3 linked regions of the Homo sapiens genome follow. The protein of the gene in region 2 interacts with the protein of the main gene of each other region in a biochemical or structural test. Each region holds a gene or a part of one and is shown on either strand. Other genes may lie near its edges.

Evidence for each region.
Region 1: the proteins of FBXL12 (region 2) and RNF32 form a complex in vitro, tested with the Homo sapiens proteins (one study listed by BioGRID and IntAct).
Region 3: of the proteins of FBXL12 (region 2) and ALDH3A1, one has a biochemical effect on the other in vitro, tested with the Homo sapiens proteins (one study listed by BioGRID).

Annotation. Positions count from the first base shown.
Region 1 is NC_000007.14:156,634,445-156,644,821, reverse strand, and holds the start of RNF32 (RING finger protein 32), read right to left. Parts: upstream 4,049-10,377; 5' UTR 4,011-4,048; exon of another isoform or gene 2,788-4,010; intron 1,846-2,787; exon of another isoform or gene 1,735-1,845; intron 1,022-1,734; 5' UTR 945-1,021; coding exon 930-944; intron 324-929; coding exon 65-323; intron 1-64. UniProt on the Homo sapiens protein: May play a role in sperm formation.
Region 2 is NC_000019.10:9,807,957-9,817,470, reverse strand, and holds the end of FBXL12 (F-box/LRR-repeat protein 12), read left to right. Parts: exon of another isoform or gene 1-3,300; coding exon of another isoform or gene 3,301-3,333; intron 3,334-4,196; exon of another isoform or gene 4,197-4,240; intron 4,241-5,753; coding exon 5,754-6,575; 3' UTR 6,576-7,201; downstream 7,202-9,514. UniProt on the Homo sapiens protein: Substrate-recognition component of the SCF (SKP1-CUL1-F-box protein)-type E3 ubiquitin ligase complex.
Region 3 is NC_000017.11:19,736,351-19,746,554, forward strand, and holds the end of ALDH3A1 (aldehyde dehydrogenase, dimeric NADP-preferring), read right to left. Parts: intron 9,263-10,204; exon of another isoform or gene 8,785-9,262; 5' UTR 8,780-8,784; coding exon 8,618-8,779; exon of another isoform or gene 7,220-8,617; intron 7,114-7,219; coding exon 6,882-7,113; coding exon of another isoform or gene 6,281-6,881; coding exon 6,195-6,280; intron 5,863-6,194; coding exon 5,654-5,862; intron 4,861-5,653; coding exon 4,743-4,860; intron 4,128-4,742; coding exon 3,986-4,127; intron 3,325-3,985; coding exon 3,158-3,324; intron 2,746-3,157; coding exon 2,646-2,745; intron 2,104-2,645; coding exon 1,973-2,103; intron 1,886-1,972; coding exon 1,871-1,885; 3' UTR 1,639-1,870; downstream 1-1,638. UniProt on the Homo sapiens protein: ALDHs play a major role in the detoxification of alcohol-derived acetaldehyde. They are involved in the metabolism of corticosteroids, biogenic amines, neurotransmitters, and lipid peroxidation.

The sequences.
Region 1 (10,377 bases), on a different chromosome or scaffold from region 2:
TATTAATCTCAATAGATTTTTTTAGCCCTAATAAGCCAAAAGATGAATGACTACGTCAGCTTACCCAAAGTCAACGGCGGCGGTTTGGGATCAAGAACATATTCTTTTTCTGAGTCTTCTAGTTTGGGGCACTGTGTAGTTTTTTTAAGTCCAGTATCTATTATTGCCTTTGTATCTCTTTTTAGAGATTTGTTCTCTTTCTTTTGTACTTGTGTCTTAGAATGATCTGCAACTGAAAGATTTCGAAGTTGAAGATCATGTAAAATGTGATCTTGTAAAGCAACTGCATTGACTGCCAAGTTATCTTTCTTAGATGAGTGACCCTAAAAAGTAGGAAAAAAGTCATATTTAGAGGAGTATTATGTAATATATCATTTAGAAGAGAACTGAGGCTTCAATACTCAACCTTGATGGCACATACAACCAAATCAAATAGTAAGGAATGCTTGACTCATTGTTACCTAAGTAGGAGCAGACCCTTGTCTCAGCATTTATGTTAACAATACAGGAATATCTTTTCATTTAATTATGAAAGCCTTAATTATAATATGAATAAATTCATTATGACCCATAAACCTGTGCATGCCTAAACAAACCCACGCTGCTTCACTATAATTAAATTAGACTCCAGGCAACTACTAAGGAGACTCCTGCCATTTCAGCTTATGCCTTTTTGTGAAAACTTAATAATTTCCTGTGCAGAATAAAAATCACCAAACAGCTAAGAGATGCTTGCAGTAAATATCGCCAGAGATTGTTTTTCCATTGGCTTGTCCACTGCCCCATGCGACACTTGGCATCGCCCATTCCTGCTGACAATTCCTAGTTCAAGCAGGGTTTGCAAACTAGTTTTTATACTCTCAAATGGCTGAATTAAAATACATTTCATGAGTCAAATAACGTGTATGTTTAAGAAAAGAATAGCGTACCTTATTTTTTAACATGCCGAATTAGGAAAAGTTGTTGCTTGGCTATCACAAATTCTATCATCACATCCTATCACCTTCCTTCTATTCTTCTGCTGCAAAGACGTGGTCAACAGAAAGTCAAAGTTACAGTGCACAGAAAAACCATGAAGTTTGTGAGGATGCTCTGTAAGAGTCTAACAGATCCTGAAGCAGCAGGAATGCCTGCTACAGGGTGGCACTAAGCTACACATTCTGGTTCTGGAGGAAGGGGGTGAACTCAAGTCAGTTATGCTTCGACTCATCCCTGTCCTCAAATAGTTCACCCCTGAGCTCCTGAGGACACATTAATACAAATGGTTAATTACTATGAATTAATCCATTGCTAAATATAACATGATACATAAGTACTACAAAACTTCAGGCTAACACTGGAGACTTGGAAAAACCAGTTAAACTGGCATTTGAAAGATACACAGAGGGAAATGAAGATGGCACATTACAGGTAGGAGGAAAGAACTGGCAGGCTGGAAATCAGCATGATATGCTTATTTTGGGGAGAAAGGGAACAATGAAGAAACTGGAACGCAAGAGGAACACTGGCTAACTTCAGTCTGTCCAGAACACAGAAGTACAGAATATGGGGACAGACCAACTTGAGTTCCAATTGAACTCTACCGCTTTGCTGCGCAAGATACTGGACACAGCTGAGCCCCAGGCTCCTCATCTATAAAGCAGGTATAATAACGCTGGCTTTGCAGGGTTGCCGCAAGGATTAATGAGACAACCTTTGAAGTATCTAAAGTAGGTCTTTTCACACAGAACTTACTCTTGTTATTCTTGCTTCAATTCCCTTCAAAGCTGGTGGAATAATTTGGAATTGGCCCTTTTAGATTTTGGACATGGTGTATTTTATGAAGACAGATGTATTCAAAATATACTGTGATGAGGAGAAATAGAAAGTTATTCAAGTAATCTAGGAACTGGCACAGAAGGCCCTTGAACATATTTCTTCTAATGTTGTTTCCCTATAACGCTGATGAGAAAAAAAATTGATCCCCAGCAGGGGCCACTGTCTGTTTGGAGTTTGCACGTCCTCCCCATGTGCTGTGGGTTTCCTCCAGGTACCCCGGGTTCCTCCCACATCCCAAAGCTGTGCACGTGAGGCTCACTGGGGCGTCCCCGTCTGAGTGAGTGTGAGTGTGCCCTGCCATGGGATGCCGTCCTCTCCAGGACTGTTGCCCGCCTTGGTCCTGAGCTGCCTGGATGGGCTCAGCCCCCTGCCACCCTGAACTGGAATAAGCAGGTTGGAAAATGAAAGGATACAAATTATTGTCAAATAAAAACTCGTAAAGCATACGGTATTCACACAGAGATGCAGGACAATACCCGATGCAGTAAGAAAGGCCCAGCGGGCTGAGAAGTGGCTCCTGTTTGTTTTGAAACTGCATGGTAGGGGGAGGTGCTTCAGAGCTTTGGCTTGGCCAACATTATCTTTAACACAGCCCCTCCACAACCCGGTCACTCATGGATTCACCAGAAATTGGGTAATGATATTTCTTAAATGTAGAGCTCATATGTACTTCAGTGTTTCATATTAGAAGTGCTTTGGTCTTTATTTAGAAGTTTGGCGATGTTTTTGTGACCAGGAATGTGCTGTGGGAACTTTCCTCTTATTTATATCAATTAACCTATGGTGAAACTGGTTTCCTTGTACACTGCATGGCTTAAAGCTCCAGTTTCTAAGAACCTATGGATGATGTTAAGTGAAGACTTACTGTGTTGAGGGCCTAACTCTAAAAATAGAAAGAAATTAATCCAAAATGTATTTCTAAGGACTAACACTTGTATTAAATTACTCCAACCGAAAGAACAAACTCACTAAGGCGTGAGTGGAGAGATAGAAAAGCACAGTGGAACCAAATCTCTGAGATATCCAGGGTTAGAAGTAAAAACGTCAGTCGCTGCTCAAGTCCTGGAGGCTTTGATGATGGTTCTTACTACAGCCCTTTTCTGTTCCCGTTCAATTCTGGCATCAAGAGATGTTTGAAATAAGTTCCACCCTGTATCTCATCAAGACAACTGAACTTGGAGAAATGGTGGAATTTAAAATACTGAAAGATCACTGCCAGAATTTTCTCAGTTCCTGCTTCCAAAATGCCTATAACCTGCAGAAGATACAGTTTGCATCACACTAAAAATGGTCCGGTCATAGCTGCAGTCTGCAATTTAATCTCAAGTTTCTACACAGTAGACCACTGTCATTAATATCAAGGTAAGAGCTTTTAAAACCTATACTCTCTTAAAGTCCTACGGTATCATTAAGTTTTAGAGTTTAAAATTCAGAATTTAAAGGTATTGAAAACCCTTCAAGTACCTACTCCAACTCCACTTTATAAATGAGAAAACCAAATACCAGGTGAGTCCTTCAATATATAATGAGCCTGCGGCACTGGTAGGGTTAGAAACGTAACCCTTGCCCAGTATTGAAAGCTAAGATTAACAGGAACCCGTTGCTTTGTAAATCCCAGTATTAAACGCTCAAGAGGCAGAGCTTGGTGGCAAAAACGATCACTGGGGTGCCAAAGCGAGTAACCTCAGCTAATTAAACACGCTCAATAAAAATACACGAGACCAAGCCTACGACGTAAAGATGCAATCCTACGTAGGGTCTTGGTGTTATCTCCTGCCTTCTGAACCCCGCTGACCGTTTTCTGAGGTTCCACTCATGCAGGAAGCGCGCGGTGACGAGGCTCCAATTCCTCTCAAAGCTGACACCACCCTGCACCTGGGGCCCCTGATGGCAGCCGGTCCTACCGGGTTCTAAAATTACCGACGTGGGATCACTGTTCTAAGGCTTTAGGCAGCCGTAAATTCGTACCCCTCAGATAGAAGGAGCTGTGGAAACTAACCAGGACCCCGAGTCCCCCAAGGAGGCTGCGCGCCGCTACGGGACCCGACCTCGCCTCACAGCTGCGGCCATCGCCGGCCCGGCTCGGAGGAGGCGAAAGCGAGGCCGCGGACGGCCCTCACCCCGAATCCATGGACCCCGCCCGCCTGGCGGGCCACCCTTCTTTCCGTCCCTCCCCCGAAGCCTCTCCGTGCCTCGACTCCTCCGCGAACACCGGAACCCAGGGACGTCTGCCCCTTTTCCCTCAGGCAACTCCCTGGCCGCCCACCGTTGCCGTAGCAACGCCCGCCTCCGCGCTCGCTCCCCGCGGGCTTGCTCACCAGCCCTGCCCCGCCCCGCCCCATACTGCGCATGCTCGCCAGCCCCGCCCGGCCCACATTGCGCATGCTTGCCAACCACGCCCTGTCCACACCACACTGCGCATGCTCGCCGGCCCCCGCCCCGCGCACGGCGTCAGCGTCTAGACGCAGGTGCGTTCCCGTCGAGGCTCGCGCAGCGGGCGTTTTTGGGGATCGCCTGGCGGGGGTGTTCGGGAGCCGCGGGCTGAAGCACGGGGGCGTGCAGGCGCCCAGGCCTCGTGTAGTGAGGGCCGAGCCCCGCGCCGGCTTCGCTGTAGTCCGCAGCCCCCGGCGGCTTTGTGGGCGCAGCCACGCTCCTCAGCCGCCCGCCCACCTGGGCCTGGGCCCCGGTTGTTTCCCTGCGGTGGCTGTGGTCGTTCCCGTTCCAGGGTCTCGAGCGCACCGCCCCTTCGCTGCGCTGTTAGTCGAGGGCAGTTTTCTGGGGGATCCCCCGATCCCCCCGCGCCGCTCAGGCGTCTTGGCTCGCGGAAGCGCAGGCGCCGACTGCCTGGCGTCGTCCGTGACTCCTGGCCCTTCTCTGTGGATCCCTTTGCTTCTCGTTGCGGGTTGTGTTTCCTGCTTCGTGGGCCTGGCCGTTTGCGTTTGGATGCAGGCCCGGGTGAGCCCTGCGTGGCCCGCTGGCCTTTTCCTGCTCCCTAGGTGACTGAGCCGCGTGTGTGACACATCGGAGTGAATTGAGGCAACGCGTTCCTTTCCAGGCTTGCAGCGGGCGGTGTCGTTCACGCTCCTGAGCAGAGCCTTCCGGTGCTTTACTCGACGCCACAAATAGTGCAGGGTTCCTCCCAGGGGCTGTCGCGAGCTAGAACTCTTCCCCGCCCCTGTGAGCTCGGGCTGTTCTTCCTCCTCCGCGTGGCTCACTCCAGCCTCGGATGTTTCCTCGCTGCACAGACCTGCTCGGGAAGACTCGAGAAGGCCACCCCAGGACTCCAGCTCTCCCCGGAAGGGCTTCCCCTCGGATTGCGTCTTGGCCCCTGGAACCCTCCCTCTGTATCCTCTGCTGTTCCTCTCTTGGCCTCCATTTGGGTTGTGGCCTGGATACTCTGGCTCGCTGCTTCCCTTCTCTTAAGGATCACAGCCCTGCACTGCCTGTCGTCCGGTGCCTGGAAACCATTGTATTTTTTGGTCTGATTTTGTAGTTGTTTGAGAACTTAAGTCTGGTCCCTCACACTCCATGCCCAGAAGCAGAAATGAGTAAAGTTTGTTTTATCTTTTCTTAATATGACAATTATTGTGTTGGTTCAACTTATGTTGTACTTTAATTAGAAGAAATTTGGCCGAAAATACAAGGAAAATATACAAATGCAAGTAATTTTTTTTAAACTTCCCTGAAAGCAGGGTCTAAAGAAATTACCAACCAACTTAGACTGGATCTAGAAGAAAAGGAAGGGTCTTTGCAGTCTTAGGACTCTTCCGTTCCGCGACGTAGGTGTTAGGATAACAGCCATAAATGGTTGTAAGACTTTGGGCTCAGATAAGTAGACTTAAGTTCAAATTTTGACTTATTTTACAAGTGTGTGATTTTTGGCAAGCTCATCTTCCTAAACCATGAGCTCCTTATTTGTAAAGGGGACATTAGCCACTCTCCAGCAACAGCCCTGGTACTTCTTCAGTCCTGGGATGGGACGTATGATTAGCCTAAGCGAACCAGAAAATCCAGGCCCGTGACCAGTGACTTGATCAGGGCTGGCGATATATCTAGGTAGGCCAACCAGGTGGACTCAGTATTTTTGTGGGTGCTACTGGAAAATTTATTTAATTCTAACTGAATGTAGAAACAGCAACAGACATGAAATGGCAGTTGTATTGCTGTCTTATCATGAGGTGAGGGCCTGAAGCTATGGTAGCCACCCTGTGAACCTTGGAAGGAGGGTTCTACAGGAACTGGCAGAGCTGAGACTGGGACGCAACCCATGTCCTGGTGACGTATTTGAGTCCTGAGGCTGGCCCTCCTGTTAGTCTTTTCTCTTACTGGCTTCAGCCAGATGGGGTCTGGTTTTCTGTTACTTGCAACAGGAAAAATTGGAATGATATCTATGCATGCTATTACCGCCTTATGGCTGTGGTGAGATTAAAACATGATACTGTGGGTGAACTGCTTAGTACAGTGCCTGCTATTCTTTATGTTGGTTTTAAGGTATTTTTCTTGAACTTTAAAGTTCTAAGAAAAATTACCGTTTTAAAATTCCTACCCTCTGTTCACATGTTTAAATTTTCATGATAGTTTTTCTGTCTGCATGTTTTCTATTCAAAATAAATTGGTCATTCTTCAGTTAGCCACGAAGAATATTGTGAATTTTTTATTTTTAAATTTATTTTTTATTGATACATATTAGATGAACATGTTTTTGGATAACGTGATAATTCGATAAATTCATAAAATCAAATCAGGGTAATTGGGATATCCATCCCCTTAAATATTTATCTTCTATTTACACTAGGAACATTCAAATTATTCTAGCTATTTTGAAATGTGCAATCGATTTGTGTTAAGTATAGGCTTGACTGAAAATTTAACCTTATTGCTTTCTAATTCTTGACAAAAACAAAGCTAACATAGTTGATATTTGAAGAATACATTCATTCTTCAAGATAGTGTGTTCTGTTGAAATGAGTTAGATGATCAGAATGCAACATTCTTGGATAGGGATAATTAAAAATATAGTCAACCTATCTTGTCCCCAAAACCATGTTATCAATGATTTGTATTTTAACATTATGCCTTTTGTTTTAAAAAAGTTTTTTTGTTTTTTTGAGATGGGCCTGAGAAACTGCATGTATACAAAGCATGTTTACATCTTCAGAAAACTGCTATTGAGTACATTCTCCATGGTGCTGTTCAGTGCCATTTGTGTAAGCACCCACATGATTGTTTTAGAATTTCAAAACCACTAATTGAATGTCCTAGGAATAGTGGAGACGGAAGAGAAAATTAGAGGTGCATGATGTTAAGGATGTTGAGGTGCTTAGTCACAAGGAGAAGGGCACCAGTGTACTTGGCTGATTAAGATGCACTTCTGTACTCCACTGTGCTTAAGAAGAAAGCTGCGGGTGGTACTCTAAGAGATCTGTTGTATAAACATTATCACAAAAAGAGTGATGATACCTGTGCTTATCCAAGGAAGAGCAGCCCAAGATGGATGGCAATAGCGGACTATTTAAGTGGAAGACATTGATATGAAGGGAAAATCTTATATTTTGCTTGTGTAGAGCGCAATTCACAGAAAGTGTTCAAATACTAGAATAGGCAGTTGGAGTCCAGCTTGTGGAAGATGGGGTTTTCTTCATGATGACACTAGAGATCATGATATTGGATACTAGTGCTGGCCCTGTATTTTTATTTATTTATTTATTTATTTATTTATTTATTTATTTATTTATTTATTTTGAGACAGAGTCTCTGTTGCCCAGGCTGGAATGCAGTGGCGCCATCTCGGCTCACTGCAACTTCTGCCTCCCAGGATCAAGTAATTCTCCTGTCTTAGCCTCCCGAATAGCTGGGATTACAGGTGCCCGTCACCACGCTTAGCTAATTTTTGTATTTTTTAGTAGAGTCGGGGTTTCGCTATGTTGGCCAGGCTGGTCTTGAACTTCTGACCTCAGGTGATCCGCCTGCCTCGGCCTCCCAAAGTGCTGGGATTACAGGCGTGAACCACCGTGCCTGGCCTATGGATTCTTAATGTATCATACCCATAATATTTGAATTTGCCCACCTGCCTAGTCTCTAAACACTGCACTAATGAAAGCCTAGGCAGGGTCAGAATGGTTCTTAGTTCAATATCCTTCTCACATTTTAGTATCTTAATGCTCTCACATTTCTCCTTTGTTATGTACAAAATATTCTCAAAGCCTACTCAGTGCCTATTTGACTCTTGTCTCTCTTAACACAGTCCTTGACATCTAAAACAAACCTAAGGAGCAGAAATTGGTGGCATGGGGTTCATCTTTAATTTAGTTCTCAATTTTAACCTTCACCAAAACCATCTCTCCATTTATTTTTCTTAATCTTCTGTATTACCTTTAACTTTCTACTCACACTTGTATATTTATTTATTTATTTATTTTTTCTTTCTTTATTATTATTCTTTAAGTTTTAGGGTACATGTGCACAATGTGCAGGTTAGTTACATATGTATACATGTGCCATGCTGGTGCGCTGCACCCACTAACACGTCATCTGGCATGAGGTATATCTCCCAATGCTATCCCTCCTCCCACACTTGTATATTTATTATCAATTTCTATTCCTAACTTGCTGATGTGGTTTGGCTGTGTCCCCACACAAATCTCACCTTGAATTGTAGTAAGTAATCCCCATGTGTCAAGGGCAGGGCCAGGTGGAGAGAATTCAATCATAGGGACAGTTTCCCCCATACTATTCTTGTGGTAGTGAATAAGTCTCACAAGATCTGATGGTTTTATACATTGGAGTGGCCCTGCGCAAGCTCTGTCTTGCCTGCTGCCATATAAGACCTGTCTTGCTTCCTGTTCCACCATGATTTTGAGCCCTCCCAGCCATGTGGAACTGTGAGTCAATTAAACCTCTTTCCTTTATAAATTATGCAGTCCCGGGTATGTCTTTATTAGCAGCATGAGAACAAACTAACACCCTTGCTTCCACCCAGATTATTTTTTCAAATAATTCTAAGTCATTGCCTATATTATGCAGTATGTGATGTCCAGCAATTGTTTGGAAATTTGCCAATCTCTCCGAGTGTTTTGTAGCAGCAGTTGCTGTAAAGACTCAGGTATACTTGTGGGAACTTACTGAAGTGTTTTTTTTTTTTTTTTCCTAGAGATTATATTATAGTTCTGTTTTGTCTTTAATAATGAAAAAGGGCTTAGGATGAGTTGTTTCCACTCCTCTGATAAAATGCATTTAAAAAAATACCTGTGGCAGACATATCATGATGACATCATTCCTGTCAACATTAAAATAGTAGTAGAGAAACACTGATGAAAACACTTCCGACACTGGAGAAGAGAGGAGAAATCTTGTTTTCATTCTTACTCTATAATTTAAAGTCACGGGTATAACAAGCGAGCCTTTAAAAACTGTTTTCCGAATTAAAAAATGGAGCAAATTCATTCTTTGTTGTTGAATTCAATATACTTAGAAGTAATTTATCACTTTGGTAAAGAATAATGTCCTACTATGCCTTAATATCTGACACGATGGAGATATTCTTGCTATCTACACTGTGATCACCAGATACCAGACACTTCAAAAATGTTGCCAAAAGCTGTTAGGCATACTGATTGTATGAAAGGTGTTTGGGTAATGTGGACTCCTTTCAGACATTTGTGATTTTTCTGCCTTAATTGAAAGTTTTGACAGGTTTGTAAAAGCATAAATGTCAGGTTATTAGTAGAAACTCTAAAATAACCTGGGAAATAAATACATATACTGGTTTCAACCACTTTGGCTAAAGCTGAATGTCTCTAAAAATTGAATCAGCTGATGCTCTAATATGTTAAATATATCAAGAGACAGGATGTTTCCTGATCACATCCAGATAATTTTTTTAATTAATAGATTTATTTTCTTAATAAATTTTACAGATAAATTGAACAAATAATACAGAGAGCTCCCTCTCCTTGCAACAGTTTCCCCTATTTGCCATTTGTATGCTATATTTGTTAAAATTGATGTACAATAAGGTTGTTCATGTTTAATGTTGACTATGAAATTCTCCGCAAATAAAAGTATACCCCACAAGTACACAGGAGAGACCCCTTCTGCAGTTCTATTCATAGAGGCACAAGCAAAGGAACTATTGAGAGATAAGAGTCTCATGATAGCAGAAAAGTATTGATCCATGATCTTGGGAAAGCTGTCCACATCTAGGATGCTGTCTGCTTTTAGGGAGAAACTTTCCTGGTTAGCTTTACCTTAAGGTCTCCAACAAGTGTATAGATTGAAGAGTCTGGAGGGGCCCATTTCAGCTGTGAGATTGTAAACCCAAGGCTCAAGGTGCTGAAGTTTTGCTGCAGTGTAAGTGGCAGGGGCAGTCTTTCCCTGATGATGTTTCCAGAAGAGTCAGTTTCTAGGCTTTAGATCATGTAGGGTTTGTCCTCAGTGGACCATGGAAAGCTTTCTTTACCTGGTGAAAATAGACTTGGGCATAATGCATTAAAGCCTGGCAGCACTTAGTCATATCAGAGCTTAGGAGGAGAAGATGTGTGAGGTTTTATTATTAGGAGC
Region 2 (9,514 bases):
GCATTTAAAATTTTACCAACTTTAACTGCTACCCTTGTGAGTTACCATTCGGTGGCCACTATTTCTAGTCAATTTCTGCTGACCCACACGGGTCTAAATTTGGCAAGGAAGATTTGATTCCTCTGTCAAAAGTAGCCCATAACATTTATGCTCTGCAGTTTATCTTTTTCTAATTTATTTTTTTGAGATGGATCTCACTCTGTCACCCAGGCAGTGGCAAAATCATAACATACTGCAACCTCCATCTCCTGGGCTCAAGCCATCTTCCTGCCTCAGCCGCCTGAGAAGATTCATTAAAACATGTTTCTTTCTCTCTTGGTTCATGATATGGTTTGGCTGTGTCCCCACCCAAATCTCAACTTGAATTCTATCTCCCAGAATTCCCACGTGTTGTGGGAGGGACCCGGGGAAAGTAATTGAATCATGGGGCCAGTCTTTCCCATGCTATTCTTGTGATAGTGAATAAGTCTCACAAGATCTGATGGGTTTATCAGGGGTTTCCTTTTTTGCTTCTTTCTCATTTTCTTTTGCCATCAACATGTTAAGAAGCGCCTTTCACCTCCCGCCATGATTTTGAGGCCTCCCCAGCCATGTGGAACTTAAGTTCAATTAAACCTCTTTTTCTTCCCAGTCTCAGGTATGTCTTTAGCAGCAGTGTGAAAACAGACTAATACTGTAAATTGGTAGCGGTAAGTGGGGCGTTGCTGAAAAGATACCCAAAAATGTAGAAGCATCTTTGGAACTGGGTAACAGTCAGAGGTTGGAACAGTATGGGGGGCTCAAAAGAAGACAGGAAAATGTGGGAAAGTTTGGAACTTCCTAGAGACTTGTTGAGTGACTTTGCCCAAAATGCTGATAGTGGTATGATCAATAAGGTCCAGGCTGAGGTGGTCTCAGATGGAGATGAGAAACTTGTTGGGAACTGGAGTAAAGGTGACTCTTGTTATGTTTTAGCAGAGAGACTGATGGCATTTTGCCCCTGCCCTAGAGATTTGTGGAACTTTGAACTTGAGAAAGATGTTTTAGGGTATCTAGTGGAAGAAATTTCTAAGTGGCAAAGCATTCAAGAGGTGACTTGGGTACTGTTAAAGGTATTCAGTTTTATAGGGGAAGCAGAGCAGAAAAGTTTGGAAAATTTGTAGCCTGACTATGTGATAGAAAAGAAAAACCCATTTTCTAGGGAGAAATTCAAGCCAGATGCAGAAATTTGCATAAGTAGCAAGGAACCTAATTAGGACCATGGGGAAAATGTCTCCAGGCCATGTCAGAGACCTTCACGGCAGCCCCTCCCATCTCAGGCCTGGAAGCCCAGGAGGAAAAAGTGGTTTCCTGGGGGCCCAGGGTCCCTGTGCTATGTTCACCCTGGGACTTGGTGTCCTGTGCCCTAGCTGCTCCAGCTGTAGCTGAAAGGGGCCAACGTATAACTCGGGCTGTGGCTTCAGAGGGTGGAAGCCCCAAGTCTTGGCAGCTTCCACATGGTCTTGAGCCTGCTGGTGCACAGAAGCCAAGAACTGAGGTTCAGGGCCAGGCACAGTGGCTCACGCCTATAATCCCAGCACTTTGGGAGGCCAAGGCAGGCGGATCACTTGAGGTCAGGAGTTCAAGACCAGCCTGGCCAACATGGTGAAACCCCATCTCTACTAAAAATACAACAAATGCGTGGTGGCGCATGCTTGTAATCCCAGCTACTCGGGAGGCTGAGGCAGGAGAATCGCTTGAACCCGGGAGGCAAAGGTTGCAGTGACTCAAGATCGTGCCATTGCATTCCAGCCTGGGTGACAAGAGCGAAACTCCATCTCAAAAAAAAAAAAAAAGAATTGAAGTTTAGGAACCTCTGCCTAGATTTCAGAAGATGTGTGGAAATGCCTGGATGTCCAGGCAAAAGTTTGCTACAGGGGTGGGGCCCTCATGGAGAACCTCTGCTAGGGCAGTGTGGAAGGGAAATGTGGGGTCAGAGCCCCCACACAGAGTCCCTATTGGGTCACTGCCTAGTGGAGCTGTGAGAAGAGGGCCACTGTTCTCCAGACTCCAGAATGGTAGATCCACCCACAGCTTGCACCATGCACCTGGAAAAGCTTCAGACACTCAACACCAGCCTGTGAAAGCAGCTGGGAGGGAGGCTGTACCCTGTAAAGCCACAAGGGGCGGAGCTGGCCAAGACCATGGGAACCCACCTCTTGCATCAGTGTGACCTGGTTGTGAGACCTGGAATCAAAGGAGATAATTTTGGAGCTTTAAAATTTGACTGCCCCACTGGATTTCAGACTTGCATGGGCCCTGTAACCCCTTTGTTTTGGCCAATTTCTCCCATTTGGAATGGCTGCATTTACCCAATACCTGTACTCACATTGTATCTAGGAAGTAACTAGCTAGCTTTTGATTTTATAGGCTCATAGGTGGAAGGGACTTGCCTTGTCTCAGATGAGACTTTGGACTGTGGACTTTTGGGTTAATGCTGAAATGAGTTAAGACTTTGGAAGACTGTTGGGAAGCCATGATTGGTTGTGAAATGTGAAGACATGAGACTTGGAGGGGCCGGGGTGGAATGATATAGTTTGGCTGTGTCCCCACCCAAATCTCAACTTGAATTGTATTTCCCAGAATTCCCATGTGTTGTGAGAGGGACCCAGGGGAAATAATTGAATCTTGGGGGCTGGTCTTTCCCATGCTATTCTCGTGATAGTGAATAAATCTCAAGAGATCTGATGGGTTTATCAGGGGTTTCCATTTTTGCTTTGTTCTCGTTTTCTTAATTTTTTTTTTTTTTTTTTTTTTGAGATGGAGTCTTGCTCTGTTGCCAGGCTGGAGTGCAGTGGTATGATCTCAGCTCACTGCAACCTCTGCCTCCTGGGTTCAAGTGATTCCCCTGCCTCAGCCTCCTGAGAAGCTGGGACTACAGGCACGTGCCACCACACTGAGCTAATTTTTTGTATTTTTTAAATTAATTTATTTATTTTTCTTTGAGTCGGAGTCTTGTTCTGCCACCAGGCTGGAGTGCAGTGGTGCGATCTCAGTTCACTGGAACCTCTGCCTCCCGTGTTCAAGCGATTCTCCTACCTCAGCCTCCTTAGTAGCTGGGACTACAGGCATGCACCACCACACTCGGCTAATTTTTTTTTGTATTTTAGTAGAAACGGGGTTTTGTCATGTTGGCCAGGATGGTCTCAATCTCCTGACCTCGTGATCCGCCCGCATCGGCCTTCCAAAGTGCTGGGATTATGGGCATGAGCCACTGCGCCCGGGCTTCTTTCTCATTTTCTCTTGCTGCCGCCATGTAAGAAGTGCCTTTCACCTCCTGCCATGATTTTGAGGCCTCCCCAGCCATGTGGAACTGTAAGTCCAATTAAACCTCTTTTTCTTCCCAGTCTCAGGTATGTTTTTATCAGCAGCATGAAAATAGACTAATACAGTTTGTATTACATGGGTATATATATGCATGTATAAAAGGCAAATGTAAGCATGCTTTCTGAAGGATTGATGATAAGCTATTTTCTTCAGTGAATGGAAGAGTTTGATGTAGAAACACCTTTTTGGCCGGGTGCAGTGGCTCATGCCTGTAATCCCAGCACTTTGGGAGGCCGAGGTGGACAGATCACTTGAGGTCGGGTGTTTGAGACCAGCCTGACCTACATGGAGAAACCCTGTCTCTACTAAAAATACAAAATTAAGGCCAGGCGCGTGGCTCATGCCTGTAATCCCAGCACCTTGGGAGGCCAAGGTGGTTGGATCACGAGGTCAGGAGATTGAGACCATCCTGGCTAACATGGTGAAACCGCGTCTCTACTAAAAATACAAAAAAAACATAGCCGGGCATGGTGGCATACGCCTGTAGTACCAGCTACTTGGGAGGCTGAAGCAGGAGAATTGCTTGAACCTGGGAGGTGGAGATTGCAGTGAGCCGAGATTGCGCTACTGCACTCCAGCCTGGGCAACAGAGCGAGACTCTGTCTCAAAAAAAAAAAAAAAAATTAGCCGGGCATGGTGGCACATGCCTGTAATCCCAGCTACTCAGGAGGCTAAGGCACGAGAATCGCTTGAACCCAGGAGGCGGAGGTTGCGGTGACTGAGATCGTGCCATTGCACTCCAGCCTGGGCAACAAGCAAAACTCCGTCTCAAAAAAAAAGAAAAGAAAAGAAACACCTTTGTAAGCACACATAAAGAATATGTTATTAGACAATTTTCCTTTTTCCATTAGGCCCTATGATGCCAAGTAGAGAAATCCAGCAATAAAAGGCAGATGTAAGCATGCTAACTTTTTCTTTTTAAGATAAACTGTACTTAGAATGAAATGCCCAGTGCTATCAATTATATATATTTTTTATTTTCTACTAAGTCTAACTTCCCAGGGTTGATTTTTGCAGCTTCCACTCTACCAGGCTTTGATATATTTTTTTTTTTGACATGGAGTTTCGCTCTTGTTGCCCAGGCTGGTGCAACGGCACGATCTTGGCTCATCGCAGCCTCTGCTTCCCAGGTTCAAGTGATTCTCCTGCCTCAGCCTCCCAAGTAGCTGGGATTACAGGCGTGCACCACCACACCTGGCTAATTTTGTATTTTTAGTAGAGACGGGGTTTCTCCATGTTGGTCAGGCTGGTCTTGAACTCCTGACCTCAGGTGATCTGCCCGCCTTGGCCTCCCAAAGTGCTGGGATTACAGGTGTGAGCCACCGTGCCCAGCCTTTTCATTTGTTGTTTTTTTTTTTTTTTTTTTAACATAGACCTAATTTACTCTGGGTAGTTTTCGGCTTTTAAAATTTTATTCTGTGTTGCTTATTTCTACTGGAGGTGATCATTAAGAAAGGGGTAAAATATCAATGGGTTGCTCTGCTCTTTTTCTTAGTCCAGAAAAAACGGTAAAAATTTATTGCTAAAGATAGATTCTGTTAGTATCTTTTTTTCCCCTACCAGATTTATCTTTTTTTTTTTTTTTTTTTTTTTTTGAGACAGAGTCTCACTCTATCGCCCAGGCTGGAGTGCAGTGGTGCGATATCGACTCACTGCAACCTTTGTCTCCTGGGTTCAAGTGATTCTCTTGCCTCAGCCTCTTGAGTAGCTGGGATTACAGGTGCTTGCCACCACGCCCAGCTAATTTTTGTATTTTTAGTAGAAACATGGTTTCACCATGTTGGCCAGGCTGGTATTAAACTCCTGACCTCAAATGATCCATCCACCTCAGCCTCCCAAAGTGCTGGGATTACAGGCATGAGCCACTGTGCCCAGCCCCTACCAGATTTATTCTAAGTGGCCGAGTGCAGTGGCTCACGACTGTAGACCCAGCACTTTGAGGGGCTGAGATGGGAGGATTGCTTGAATCCAGGAGTTGGAGACCAGCCTGGGCAACATAGCAAGACCTCATCTCTACTAAAAATCACAAAAATTAGCTGGGCATGTGTCAGAAGTCCCAGCCACTTGGGAAGCTGAAGTGGGAGAATCACTTGAGCCTAGGAGGTCCAGGCTGCAGTGAGCCATTATCTCACCACTGCACTGTAGACTGGGTGACAGAGCAAGAACCTGTCTCAGAAAAAAAAAAAAAAAAAAAGATTTGTTCAAAGCCCTAGCAGGCAAGATGGTGCACTCAAACCATCTGGTTGAACCTGGGGAGGTTGAACCTGGGGAGGAGACTGGCTAGGCAAGGGCAGAAGCCCAGCAGGGCACCAGAATCCCCCACCCCGGGGTTGTGTGTCTCCAGCCCAGCAGGGGCCTTGGAAGCTCCATACCTCTCACTCTGTCACCCCAATCTCTGGCTCTTACAGATGCGACCTAAAGTCATGTGGCACCTCCTTCGAAGGTACATGGCATCCCGGCTCCATTCCCTGCGGATGGGTGGCTACCTGTTCTCTGGCTCCCAGGCCCCCCAGTTGTCCCCTGCTCTGTTGAGAGCCCTGGGCCAGAAGTGCCCCAACCTGAAGCGCCTCTGCCTGCACGTGGCCGACCTGAGCATGGTGCCCATCACCAGCCTGCCCAGCACCTTGAGGACCCTGGAGCTGCACAGCTGCGAGATCTCCATGGCCTGGCTCCACAAGCAGCAGGACCCCACCGTGCTGCCCCTGCTTGAATGCATCGTGCTGGACCGCGTCCCCGCCTTCCGTGACGAGCACCTGCAGGGCCTGACGCGCTTCCGGGCCTTGCGCTCGCTGGTGCTGGGTGGTACCTACCGTGTGACCGAGACAGGGCTGGATGCTGGCCTGCAGGAGCTCAGCTATCTGCAGAGGCTTGAGGTGCTGGGCTGCACCCTGTCTGCCGACAGCACCCTGCTGGCCATCAGCCGCCACCTCCGAGATGTGCGCAAGATCCGGCTGACCGTGAGGGGCCTCTCTGCCCCTGGCCTGGCTGTGCTGGAGGGAATGCCGGCCCTGGAGAGTCTGTGCCTGCAGGGTCCCCTCGTCACCCCAGAAATGCCCTCCCCCACTGAAATCCTCTCCTCCTGCCTCACTATGCCCAAGCTCAGAGTCCTTGAGCTGCAGGGGCTGGGGTGGGAGGGTCAGGAGGCGGAGAAGATCCTGTGTAAGGGGCTGCCCCACTGTATGGTCATCGTCAGGGCTTGCCCCAAAGAGTCTATGGACTGGTGGATGTAACTACTCCACCTGCCCTTGGGACCCATCCCAGTTTTCATCATTGAGCCCCAGACCCTCTGAGCAGCACCTTGAAGAGGGCAGATAATCAGACTTGAGGAAACTGAAAGCCCCAGGTTGAGAGAACAGAGGCCTAGGGACCTCCAGACCATTGGAATCACTGTTTGCCAGCTGTGTGGCCTTGGTCATATCATCAGCCTCTGGGAAGCCTAGTTCCCACATCTGGAAATAAGGATGATCATAGCTACCTCACGGTTACATTGCAAAGCCTTACTCTAAAAGCTCCCAGCCTCCAGAGGCTCTCAATGAAGAGTCACCTTCATGGTCGTCTTCAGGAACAGGACGGATGAAGAAGGGGTGGGGTTAAGACTCAGGGGCACCTGAGGGTCTGAGCCCCCTTATGAGTACCCAAGAAGGACTGTCTATGCATGCACACCCACAAGCCTATACACCATTTATATACCTACACGCACGCAAGAGACGCGGAGAGATAGGCGATGCAGACTCGCGATTCAATGATCGATATGCTCATAAAAGTGCTCAATTATATTTTCTGTATTTTGTATGCTGTATTTTCCAAGACGTATATTATTTTACTATTAAAGAAAAAAATCATTTTTTTTTCCCGAGAAGTATTCAGTTTATTCATTCAACCAATCTTTCTTGAGCTTCTGCTATTTTGCAGGCACTGTTCTAGGTTCTGGGAAACTGGGCCACCACAGTGAACAAAACTGACAAGACCCTGCCCTCGTAGATCTCATAGAGGAGAAGACAGGACAACAAACAGGTAAGCCAGTCCATGCTTTAGTTTTTTTGTGTGGGGACAGAGTCTCACTCTGTCACCCAGGCTGGAGTGCAGTGGTGCGATCTTGGCTCACTGCAACCTCCGTCTCCCGGGTTCAAGTGATTCTCCTGCCTCAGCCTCCCAAGTAGCTGGGATTACAGGCACCCGCCACCACGCCCAGCTAATTTTTGTATCTTTAGTAGAGATGGGGTTTCACCATGTTGGTCAGGCTGGTCTCAAACTCCTGACCTCGTGATCTGCTCACCTCGGCCTCCCAAAGTGCTGGAATTACAGGTGTGAGCCACTGCGCTCGGCCACCATGTTGTAATTTTGGAGACTCTGAGCCAGTACACCAGGGTCACGTGATGGAGGCATACTTGCATGGTTGAGTGAGCACGGTAGGCCTCTGTGCTGAGATCTGAGAGGTGAAGAGAAAGCAAAGATCAGAAGAGCTAGGGCAGAAGAGGAAAGGCCAGCACTGCTAAGATGAGAATGAACTTGGCATTTTCCAGAAACAGAAAGAAGGTTGTGTGGCAGAGTGAGCAGGGGTAAGAGCTGTCGAAGTTGAGGTCAGGGCCGGGCATGGTGGCTCACATGTGTAAACCCAGCACTTTGGGAGGCTGAGGTGGGTGGATCACTTGAGCCCAGGAGTTTAAGGCCAACCTGGGACATCTGAGGCAAGTGAATCACTTTGAGTTCAGGAGTTTGAGACCAGCTTGGGCAACATGGTGAAACCCTGTCTCTACAGAAAAAATTAGCCAGGTGTGGTGGTGTGCATCTACCCAGCTGGTATCCCAGCTATTCAGGAGGCTGAGGTGGGAGGATTGCTTAAGCCTGGGACTCGGAGGTTGCAGTGAACTGTGATCACCACTGCACTCCAGACTGGGTGACAGAGTGAGACCCTGTCTCAAAAAAAAAAAAAATAAAACAAAAGGAGATAATGGGGACAGGAGTGGGCAGGGCCTTGCAGGTGGCTCAGGCTTTAGGGGTTCAGTAAGTAACACCACCTTTTCCTGCCTTTCGAGTCTGAACCACTTGAAAGATGCAGGTGTCAGATTATAAGTGTGAGTGCCTACCCGTGAGATGAGCGTTGCTGTGTGTGGCTAAGCCCCGGCTCTGTGGGTTCACCACCTGCTCAGCAGGCCCAGGTGCCTCCTCTGGTGCTTAGAGCCAGGTTGGAGAAGAGAGCTGAGCTGGGTACACTTGGTTTCTTATTCCAAGCTTACCCATCAGAGAAGAGCCAGAGATGTTCCTCCCATGCTCTTCCCACTCAGAGTTGCAGTAGAAATTCCTTCTCTTTCTGTCTCTCTTTTTTTTTTTTTTTTGAAACGGAGTCTTGATCTGTTGCCCAGGCTGGAGTGGTGCAGTGGTGCAATCTTAGCTCACTGCAACCTCTGCCTCCCAGGATCAAATGATTCTCCTGCCTCAGCCTCCTAAGTAGCTGGGAATACAGGCGTGTGCCACCATGCCTGGCTAATTTTTGTATTTTTAGTAGAGTTGGAGTTTCACCATATTGGTCAGGCTGGTCTCAAACTCCTGACCTTGTGATCTGCCCACCTTGGCCTCCCAAAGTGCTGGGATTACAGGTGTGAGCCACTGCGCCCAACCTTTTTTTTTTTTTTTTTTTTTTTTTTAAATAGAGATGGGGCCAGGCACGGTGTGTCCCATGCCTGTAATCCCAGCACTTTGGGACACCAAGGCGGGAGGATCATCTGAGGTCAGGAGTTCGAGACCAGCCTGGCCAACATGGTGAAACCCCGTCTCTACTAAAAATACAAAGATTAGCTGGACTTGGTGGCACATGCCTATAATCCCAGCTACTCAGGAGGCTGAGGCAGGAGAATCGCTTGAACCCTGGAGTGGGAGGTTGCAGAGAGCCGAGATTGTACCACTGCACTCCAGTCTGGGCAACAGAGAGAGACTCTGTTTCAAAAATAAATATAGATAGATAGATAGGAGGTTGCAGAGAGCCGAGATTGTGCCACTGTACTCCAGCCTGGGCAACAGAGAGAGACTCTGTTTCAAAAATAAATATAGATAGATAGATAGACAGACAGGTAGACAGACAGAGACAGGAGTCTCCCTATGTTGCCAAGACTGGTCTCGAACTCCTGGGCTCAAGCCATCCTACTTCAGCCTCCCAAGTAGCTGGGACCAC
Region 3 (10,204 bases), on a different chromosome or scaffold from region 2:
AGGTGGCTGCGAGACCCTGGGGATCTGCCCGCACGAGACTGTGCCTGCCTGGTCAAGAGCCAGGGCTTCCCTGTAGGACAGAGGTGAGGGAGGGTCACCTGGGCAAGCGGAAGTTAGTGGGGACAGGAAGCGCTGTTTGAGAACAACCATTCAGATGAGTCTTGCCGGGAAGGAGCGTAGAGACATGAGGCAGTTGCCGCAGGGGGAGCCAGTTAGGAGAAAATATTATTTTGTTTTGTTCTTGGTTTTGGTTTTCAAAATTTTTTTAGAAACAGGGTCTCACTGTGGCTCCCAGGCTGGAGTGCAGTGGCACCATCACAGCTCACTACAGCCTCGAACTCCTGTGCTCAAGTGATCCTCCTGCCTCAGCCTCTCTAGTAGCTGAGACTACAGGCACACACCATCGCACCCAGCTAATTTTTTATTTTTAGTAGAGACAGGGTCTCTATTGCCTAGGCTGGTATTGAACTCCTGGGCTTAAGGGATCCTCCCACCTTGACCTCCCAAAGTACTGGGATTATAGGCATGAGCCACCACTCCCAGCCAAGATTTAGTTTGGCTCAATTCTCTGGGTATACAATAAGTCACAGGTGCACGCGGGAAACATCCAAACAAAACAAAACATAAGAAAACAGTTTCCTCTCTGCTCCTGCTCCCACCCCCTCACTGGAGGGAAGGAAGCACAGGTAACACTTAACGGTTTTTCTGGTTGCATTTGGGGTCTGGGGGACTTGGAATAAGGTTCAAGACACTAGAGAATAGGAATGGTCCAGGACAGAAGGGGAAACTGAAGATGCAGGAGAGAGAGTAAGGTCAGGAGTGGGAAGGGGGTGGTGGTGGCGGGGCACGGGCCAGGTGGAGGGTGGGCTTTTGCTGGGAGCAGGCACAGGTGGGGCCAGGCACACCTGTTGGTGGTGGCACAAAACTCTATGTTTTCACAAGGAAATCTCAGCAAAAGCCGGGAGGGCTTTCCTGCATGATACCAGGAGAGTCTGTGTAGAGGACCCTGAGGGACAGGCCCAGCCTCAGCAGGTCTCCCCCAGCAGCCTCCCCTTACCTGCCAGGCCCAGGCTGGGAGGCTTCCTGGCTCTGAGTCTAACCAGCCCCCAGAACACCCAGCTTCAGACTCCCCTTGCCAGACCCTGTCCTGGCTCCTCAGGCCTCTGGGGCGGGACTCTGGGCCAGCTGCAGCCCAACGCCATGCAGTTGAGGCACCGTGGGTGCTGGTGCTGCCTGGCCTCGGGTCCTTTGCCCCCACGAGCAGCACTATGACATCACCAGGGCGTTTTGTGTTGACTACTGCATCGTCTCACAAAGTGGCCCCTGCCCGAGATAGTGAAGCTAGTCTGGGAAGAGACGGCATCAGCTCCCCATATCTGAGCCACTGTGCCGACAAGGCCCAGCCTCCTCAGGCTCTCCTTGGCTGGACACACCAGAGATGGAGCTGACCTCCCCAAGTCTAAAAGGAAGACAAGTGTCACCCTGACACCGTGCATGGCCTCCTGGCACAAGGCCCCACCAGCTGATGAGAGGCCTTTGCTGGTACATCAGTGACCACACTGCGTGGGGCAGTGGGATCAGGCAGGACAGGTCGGTGGGTGCAGGGCTACAAAAGAAGTGCCATATGCCTGCATTTGCTGAGTTAGAAAATTGTATTCGTCTCTTTATTGGTCTAGAAAGGGGTGGAGACTTGGAATGGTGAGGCCTGGGCCCATGTGGGAGTGGGGTGTGCACAGGTCAGCAGGTCAGCAGAGGAGTGGGGCTGGGCTGGGGCTGCAGGAGCGATTCTCCCAGGGCCAGGAGAGCCAGTGAGGGTGGTCCGCACTCCGATGGGACACAGTATGGCCAGGCCAGGCGGAGCAACCCCTCCTCAGTGCTGGGTCATCTGTGAAAGGGACACGGAGTGGGCAGTGATCCCCAGGCCCTGGTCCCGCACAGCCCGGTCTCCCCCACAGCGCCTTCCCCCTCTCACCTTGGCCGGGCTCGGGGGGTATCTGACCTTCAGGCCTTCATCATTCATCAGAGGCCTCACCAGGCAAGAGCGGCGGTGAGAGAAAGTCTCGAAGCTCTTCTTGCCATGGTAGGATCCCATGCCGCTGTTCCCTGCGGAGGAGAAGTAAGCACAGGGCTCAGCATCCTGCCCCCAGGACGCCCCAGGTTTCCCTCTCCACCTTGTTGGGTGTATCCCAGAACCACAGGGACAGGGAGGCAGAGCCCCAGCCACCATCACCCATCCTTCCCTCAAATCCTATGGCCCTCAGCACCCAGCCCCAGGTTGTGGCCCTTTTCTGGGCCTCCTGAGGGTGGCCAATGTCTAGGGTGTCCCCAGGGCATCCACACTGTGGGAGTGCCCAGCAAGGGTCTAATCCCAGCTCTGCCACTAAATGGCTGTGTGACCTCTGGCCTGGGTCACCTTTCTCAGGCCTCCATGAAATAGGCCGGTGCACCAGGTGACCTCTAGGAACCTCTAGGCTCCCAGGTTAAGTGTGTCTGATGGATGGCACGCAGAGGCCAAGGTCCAAATGGAAGAGGCTAATGGGAGGCTGCCGCCCGGGCTGCAGGAGGTGGTCCCTCCTGAATTTGCTGGGTGAGTGTGCCCAGCCCTGGGGCCCAGAGGGAGGCAGCAAGCTCAGCCCCAGACTCACCCACGCCCCCGAAGGGCAGAGAGTGCAAGGTGATGTGGACGATGACATCGTTGGCCGCCACCCCACCACTGGATGTCTCTGCAATCATCTTCTTAATCACCTGCACCAGGACCCAGCCACTGGCCTCAGTCTCCTGCCCACAGGATGCCCCAGCCCCCAACCCGACCCTGCCTGGGTATAGCCTGGAGCCACAAGGACAGGAGCAGGTGGAGGCAGAGCCTTAGCCTCCATCTCCTGCTCTTCCTGCAGACCGCGTGGCTGTCAGCACCACATGAGCAAAGAGTGACAGCAGCCGCCCCCATGCCTGTGTGCAGGGCCCTGGGCAAGGATCGCTCATTCAGTGCCCTCAGGTGATGCTGCTGTCCTGATCTTACAGACGAGGTGAAAGGAGCTCAGAAAGATCCAGTGACTTGCCCAAGGTCACACAGCCAGAGAACAGTGAAGCTGCAGTTTGAACCCAGGTCTGTGGGCCCCAGGACCCTGGCAGAGGGCACCCCAGGCCCACCACCCACCTTGTCGTTGCTGGAGAACATGTAGAGGGCCAGGGGCTTCTCACGCTGGTTGATGAACTGGATGGCCTCCTCCAGGCTGCGCACGCACACGATGGGCAGCACAGGCCCGAAGATCTCCTCTTGCATCACCGGGGACTGGGGGTCCACGTCCGTGAGGATGGTGGGGGCTGAGGCAGGAAACAAGCCAGAGTTGGACGGCGCAGAGACCCCCACGCGGATGGAAAGTGCAAGCACCTAGACCCCTGCTCCAACCCTTTTCCAGGCAAACCTGCCCAGGCTTGGAAAAGGGCAGGGACGAGGCCTCAGAGAGGTACCCTAGGCACCTGCGTCCTGGATGCCATCTGAGCAGACCACTGGGGACAACTATAGGTTAACCTGTACGGAAGGACCCGAGATCTGTCTCCAGGAGCAGGCACTGCACCTGCCGGCCACCTGATGCCCTGCCAGAATTCTCTTGTCTCCTTGACAAACTCGGGGCCAAGAGGGTCCCATCTGGTGACCCACAGCCTGGGCACTGGGGGCCCCTCACGGCTGGGCACACCTGGGGCTCCTGTGGCTTCTGCTGTCCCTGCTCCTGCTGCTTCAGAGGGGCAGGGAGATGAGGCCCCTCTTTCTGGGCCTTTGCTGGGAGAGGGGATTCTGAGGTTGAAGCAGGGGCTGTCCTCAGCCCCTGCCTGCTGGAGTCTACCGCAGGCTCCCTGGTGAAAGCAATTTATACCCATCCCGAGGTCGTGTCCGCTTATCAAGCATCTGTGCCCACTTGCTGTGAACTTGCTGGGGACCCCTGCAGCCTGGGCAGGTGGGCTGTGCTCTTCAGGGGTCACGCACCTATGTAGCGAGTGGCGGCATCCCCGGTGCCCCCATAAGCCACCTTCTGGCCCTCAATCAGGCCCATCACCCTCTGGAAGTGCCGGGCACTAATGATTCTTCCATAGTCCCGGGATTTCTTAGCATCTTCCCCGTAGAACTCCTGTGGAGAAGAGGTGGGGGCTTCGGGTAAGGACGCAGAGCCTCGTCCTGCCCAAAGGCTGCACAGACACAGGCCAGCAGTGTCTGTCTTTGGGTGGTGGGATTCTGGGTGGAGCTTTTTTCTTCTTTATGCTTTTTAATCTTTTCTAAATAATCTATAGTGAGTGTGCATTATCTTTTTTTTTTCTCTTAGAGACAGGGTCTTGTTCTGTTGCCCAGGCTGGAGTGCAGTGGTGCAATCATAGCTCACTGCAGCCTCAAACTCCTGGGCCCAAGCAATGCTCCAGCCTCGCCGTAGCCTTCTAAGTAGCTGAGACAACAGGCATGCACCACCATGCCACCATGCTTGGCTAATTTAAAAACATATTTTGTAAAGATGGGATCTTGCTATGTTACCCAGGCTGGTCTCAAACTTCTGGCCTCAAGTGATCCTCCACTCTCTACCTCCCAAAGTGCTGGGATTACCGGTGTGAGCCACCATGCCTAGCTTGCATTATGTTTATATTAGAAGAAAATAAATCCAGTGTTTCCAAATCTGTAGAAGTTGGTTAAGGGGCCAGGCCCCCCTTGTGCCTTACAGCCTCTCATCCCACCCTGCCAAGGGGTCAACACTCACTTTCAGTGACTTCTTGAGCTTCTCCACAATTTGGTTCTGGATCGAGGGGTCACAGAGGATGTAGTCAGGGGCCACGCAGGTCTGGCCACTGTTCATGAATTTCCCCCAGGCGATGCGTCTGTGAGAATCCCAGACTGGACTAAATCCAAAAGGTTCCCCAGGAGTTGCATCTCGTTTTGCAGACCCCTGAGCTCTCTGGTCAGCAGAAGCCATCGGCTGTGACCTTGCCACCAGTGAGTCCTCCCAAGCGGTCTGCTCACTTCTAGACACTGGACCGAGCAGACCCAATGGCCCTGATCATGTTCACCGGCGACTGGTGGGGAATTTCTAGAGGACGTCTGTTGAGGGCAACCTCCGTGCTCCCTGATCACGCCCTTGTCCTGCACAGCCAGGTGTCACTGCTACTCGGGCCCCCCTACATCTCTGGGGCCACAGATGTGGGATATGGAGGTGGTCAGAGCCCTGGCTAGGGTCAGGAGGTGCAGATACGGGTTCTGCCCCAGACCCCGAGCAGCGGTGGCCCTTCTCCCCTCTGGGCCTGCTCTCCAGAACTCAGATTGCCCTGCCCCATCAGAGGGCTGAACCCAGTACAGTTCCTTGTGTCCTGAACGTCCCACAGCTGCTTTTTCTGCAGCCTCTGCTTGGAGTACCACTTCCCCAGTGATGCGCACTCAGCAAACAGAGCTCAGCCTAGACCTCTCCCCCTCCAGGAAGCCTTCTGGGACTCCCCACACGTCTTCTGTGCATGTGGTCCCCACCCCTACCCCCATGTAAGTTTCTGCAAGGACCACTGCTCCATGAGGCAGGGGGTGTCTGTGTTACTCAGAGTGGACCCACAGCATGAGGTGCAGTCATGTGTGCTTGGAAAGCAGAGTAAGGACTGCTGCAGCCAGCAGGCCCGTGCCTCTCACCGGCAGGCCACGTCCAGGTCACAGTTCTTGTCCACGTAGCAGGGACTCTTCCCTCCCAGCTCCAGCGTGACAGGGGTCAGGTGCTTGGCAGCAGCCGTCATGATGATCTTCCCCACCCCCGTGCTGCCCGTGTACAGGATATGGTCGAACCTCTCCTTGAGCAGCTCCGTGGTCTCAGGGACACCCCCATTGATTACTGGGTACAGATCCTTCCATGCAAGGAGAGAGGGGAGGCTCAGCAAAGACCAAGCCCCTCCTCGCTCTTGCAAGTGTGGGTGAGTTGCAGTGGCCAAGACCAGCAGCCCCGAAGCTCAGCACCCCACCTTGGGCGGGGGGTAGCAGTAACTGGCAGTAGACCGCCTTTCCTGGCCCAGGGGCTCTGTTCACCCCAATGAGAGAGGGCAGCTGCTAAGAACAATCCTCAGCCCCACCAGTAGCTTGGCCCCTTGCTGCAAGAATTCACTATTTCTCACCCCCCAAAGACCTGGCCCTAGCTCAGTTATGAGGCCATGGAGTTACGAGGCCCTGGAGGGCAACTCACCTTGTCCAGGTACTGGGGGATGATGGTAGCCAGCAGGCTCGCCATGTTCTCACTCAGCTCCGAGGGCTTGAGGACCACTGAGTTCCCTGCAGAGCACACCGAGCCAGGCCTATGCCCAGGGTACTTCACCAGAGGCTCTGCCCTCCCAAGGACCACACCTGAAGCCTCCCCTCCATTGTGTGTCCTCGGGACAGTGGATGGAAGAGTTGTTAGCAAACAAGCACATGTCACGGGGCACACCCAGGAGCACGCACGGGCACATGACAGAGGGACACACACGGGCACACGCTGGCCAGAGCTGCACCACCTGGCCCTCTGAGTTGCTGAGATGTTGGAGGAAAAGCAGAAAGGGGAGAGAGGCTCTGGGGGCCCGGTTGGTAGAACAGCGCTGGCCCATTCTAGGAAGGAAGCCCTGATGCATATTAGGTGACAGAAGCTCCAGCCCCCCAACAGGGGTGGGGGAAGGCAGGCCCTCTCTGTATCACCAGGTGTGGACACCTGAGCCTGACTGGACCTCAGGCACCAAGAGGCCTGGCTAAACAGCTTGGTCCCCACAGCCTCCTGTGACAGACCCAGCAAACCCTTATCTGACCCCAGGACTCTTAACACAGGCCTGAGCCCATCCTGGCTTGGCTCCACGCTGGGGGACGGTGCTCCCCCAGCTTCCCTTCCCACAGGGCCATGCACCTGCAGCGATGGCGCCCACCATGGGCTGGATGGTGAGGTTGAAGGGGTAGTTCCAGGTGCCAATGACGAGGACCACGCCCAGTGGCTCCGAGTGGATGTAGAGCTCGTCCTGCTGAGTCTGGGGCGTCTTCTCCACGGGCTCATCCGCGGCCCACTCAGGGAGCTTCTGGATCATGTACTCGATCTCCTCTAGGACGTACACCACCTCCTCATAGTAGGCGTTCCATTCATTCTGCAGCGACAGAGCCGGAGTGAGCTTCCAGGGCCAGGGCCCGCCTGCAGCTGGGGCGAGTGGGGAGCCCCACTGCTCAGCTGCCAGGGTGATGGGGGTCACTCACCCAGCCCAGGGTGGGGGCAGCCGCAGAAGGCTCCCAGGGGAAGCAGAGCCAGGATTAGCCGTTGGACCTGTGGGTCTGAGAGGACCCCTTTCTGCCAGAGGGGGGCCCAGGTAGGTTTGCGGCCCCAGGGGAGAGAGCCGGTGAAGGGACCAGGCATGGGCAACGGAATGGATCCAGGTAGGGGGAATAGAGCCGGGCAGGGGAGAGTAGATTCAGGCAGTGGGAATGGATCCGGGGAGGGGGGGATGGATCCGGGGAGGGGGGATAGATTCGGGCACTGGGAGCTGGATCCGGGCAGGGTGGAGGGAGCCAGGCCCTTTAGTTGTCTGGAGGGGGATGCAGGACCAAGGGCTGCTGGGCGCTCAGGGCCTCCTGTGGGGAGCAGGGGTGAGAAGAGGAGATGCAGACGGCGGAAAACGCGTCTCTTTTATAAACTTGGGCTGTGAAGAGCAACACAGAAGCTGTAAAGTCAACAGAATGGGTTTCCTTGTTGTTTCTGGTTTAAGATGAGAAGTCCTGAGCCATTTCTTGAAAAGTGCAGTAGCAGGCCCGGCGCTGTGGCTCATGCCTGTAATCCCAGCACTCTGAGAGGCCGAGAACTCCTCCTGAGGAACTCCTGAGGGCAGGAGTTCAAGACCAGCCTGTCCAACATGGCGAAACCCTGTCTCTACTAAAAATACAAAATTAGCCGGGCATGGTGGTACACGCCTGTTGTCCCAGCTACTGGGGAGGCTGAGGCAGGAGAATTGCCTGAACCCGGGAGGCGGAGGTTGCAGTGAGCCGAGATCGCGCCATTACACTCCAGCCTGGGCGACAGAGCGAGACTCTGTCTCAAATAAATAAATAAAATAAAATAAAAATAAAAGTGCAGGAGCAAAGAGGGTAGTCGGTGGGAGGATGGGCTCCGGAGCGCTGGACCCCAGGCAGCATGTGGGGACAGCAGGGGGCTGCGAATGCAGAGGTGTCTGGTCTTGCTCAGGGTGAGGGACGGAACAGCCCCTGTGAGAACTGGGAGGGAGGGGAGAGCCCCCCATGCCCTCCGGGGTGCCAAGCTGCTCTGGTTCCTGGTGTGGAGAACCAAGTGGTCCTGCGTGGGGCTGAGGAATGGGGAGGACCAGAAGTTCAGGGTGTCGGGGCAGCAGGAAGTTGAAATGGGGGACGCTGCGGGCGGGACGCGGAGGCCGGGCCAGGAGGAAAAGGCCAGAGGGCGGAAGAGGCGGCGGGGGCGCGCGGGGCGCGGCGGAGGGGAGGGCGGTGCGCCCAGTCTCCGCGACCGAGGGGCCAGGTGGCCCCAAGTCCTTCCTGAACCTCTCTGGGTCGCACTCTCCCCAGCCCCTCCCCCCACGCCCCATCGCATGGCCCCGACACTGGCAGAAGGCGGCCGCCCAGCCTGAGCACCTTGTGCAGGTCTGCGGCCAGCGCGCCCACCAGCTCCTGCTCCTGCTCCTGGATCAGGCGCTGCAGCGCCTCCAGCTGCTGGATCCGGAACTGCAGCGGACGGGTCCTGCCCGAGCTGAAGGCGGCGCGGGCGCGCTTCACGGCCTCGCTGATCTTGCTCATGGCGCCTGGGGACAGAGAGCACCTGCAGCTGGCTGAGGGGCACGAGCGCGCCCTGCCTCCCACCCTGCCTGAATTCTATAGGAAGGGACTTCCCTGGGCTCGGCCTTGGGGAAAATGGCCTTTCCGCTGGAAGGTCCACTTTCTGCCTCGCCTCCTCTCCCGCCCCTCACTCAGACGCCTGGGCCCTGGCTGCCTTGCTAGCCCCTGAGAAGGTGACACCCGCCGCAACCCGAGTCCTAAGCCGAACTGCTGCTGGGGGCTCTTGGCAGCGTGCTCGCGGCAGGGCCTTTCCCGGCCTTTTCCGCTCCCTTACTTGCTTGCAAAGCTGATGGCACAATCCCAGACCAACACCCCCAGAGCTCTGCACACGCAGTCAGCCACTCTCCAGATCAGATTGGAGGGGCGCAGTCCGCGATTCCACACCCAAGCCGATAAAGAAAAACCCAGCACCACCCTCCTGGCTAAGCCATTGTTCTAAAAAGCGCTGGTTTCTTGGCAGAGCTGAACCAGGCTTGGTGTGTAAACCACGCGTGCCACACCTGGGAGACGCACGCCCATGCCCGCCAAGGATTCAGAGAGCTGCAGATTTCCACAAAGAGGTGTGGAGGCGATTCCTGCTACCAATACACGAAAGTATAGTGGCAAATCGGGATGGCCCTGCTGGGGGCAATTTGGCAATATGTGGCAAAAGTTTTTCAAACATACTTCTCTGTGACGAAAAGGTCCTACAGCCTTTCCTAAACATTCACGAATAAGAAAGTCATCACTGTTTTCTATAACAGGGAAGTATTGTAAACATCCCAAAGATCCGAAAGAAAGGAGACAGTTTAAATGACTCCTGTCACACCCACGTAAGGGTTTACTGTGCAGTATTTAGGGATTAGGTGGAGCAGGCTATTCAGCATGTTTGTAGGGGCTCTCTCTGCACCAGGGGTGTCTCAGGCACTGGGGATAAGAAAGAAAACAGGTTACAGGCCGGGCGCGGTGGCTCACGCCTATAATCCTAGCAAACACTTTGGGAGGCTGAGGTGGGCGGGTCACCTGAGGTCAGAAGTTCAAAACCAGCCTGGCCAACATGGTGAAACCCTGTCTCTACTAAAAATACAAAAATTATCTGGGAGTGGTGGCAGGCACCTGTAGTCCCAGCTACTTGGGAGGCTGAGGCAGGAGAATTGCTTGAACCAAGCTGAGAGGAGGAGGTTGCAGTGGGCCGAGATTGGGCCATTGCACTCCAGCACTTTGACCGGGAGAATGGAGCCATAATCACAGAGTTCTCCTATTAGATTAGTGGTAGGAGGTAAGGCAAGGTTAGTGAGATTTGCTAGAAGTCAAGAGGCTGTCAGTGGAAGCGGTATTTGAAGGCCTCGGGTAAGTAATATAATTACTTTCAGCGAGACTCCATCTAAAAAAAGAAAAAGAAAGAAA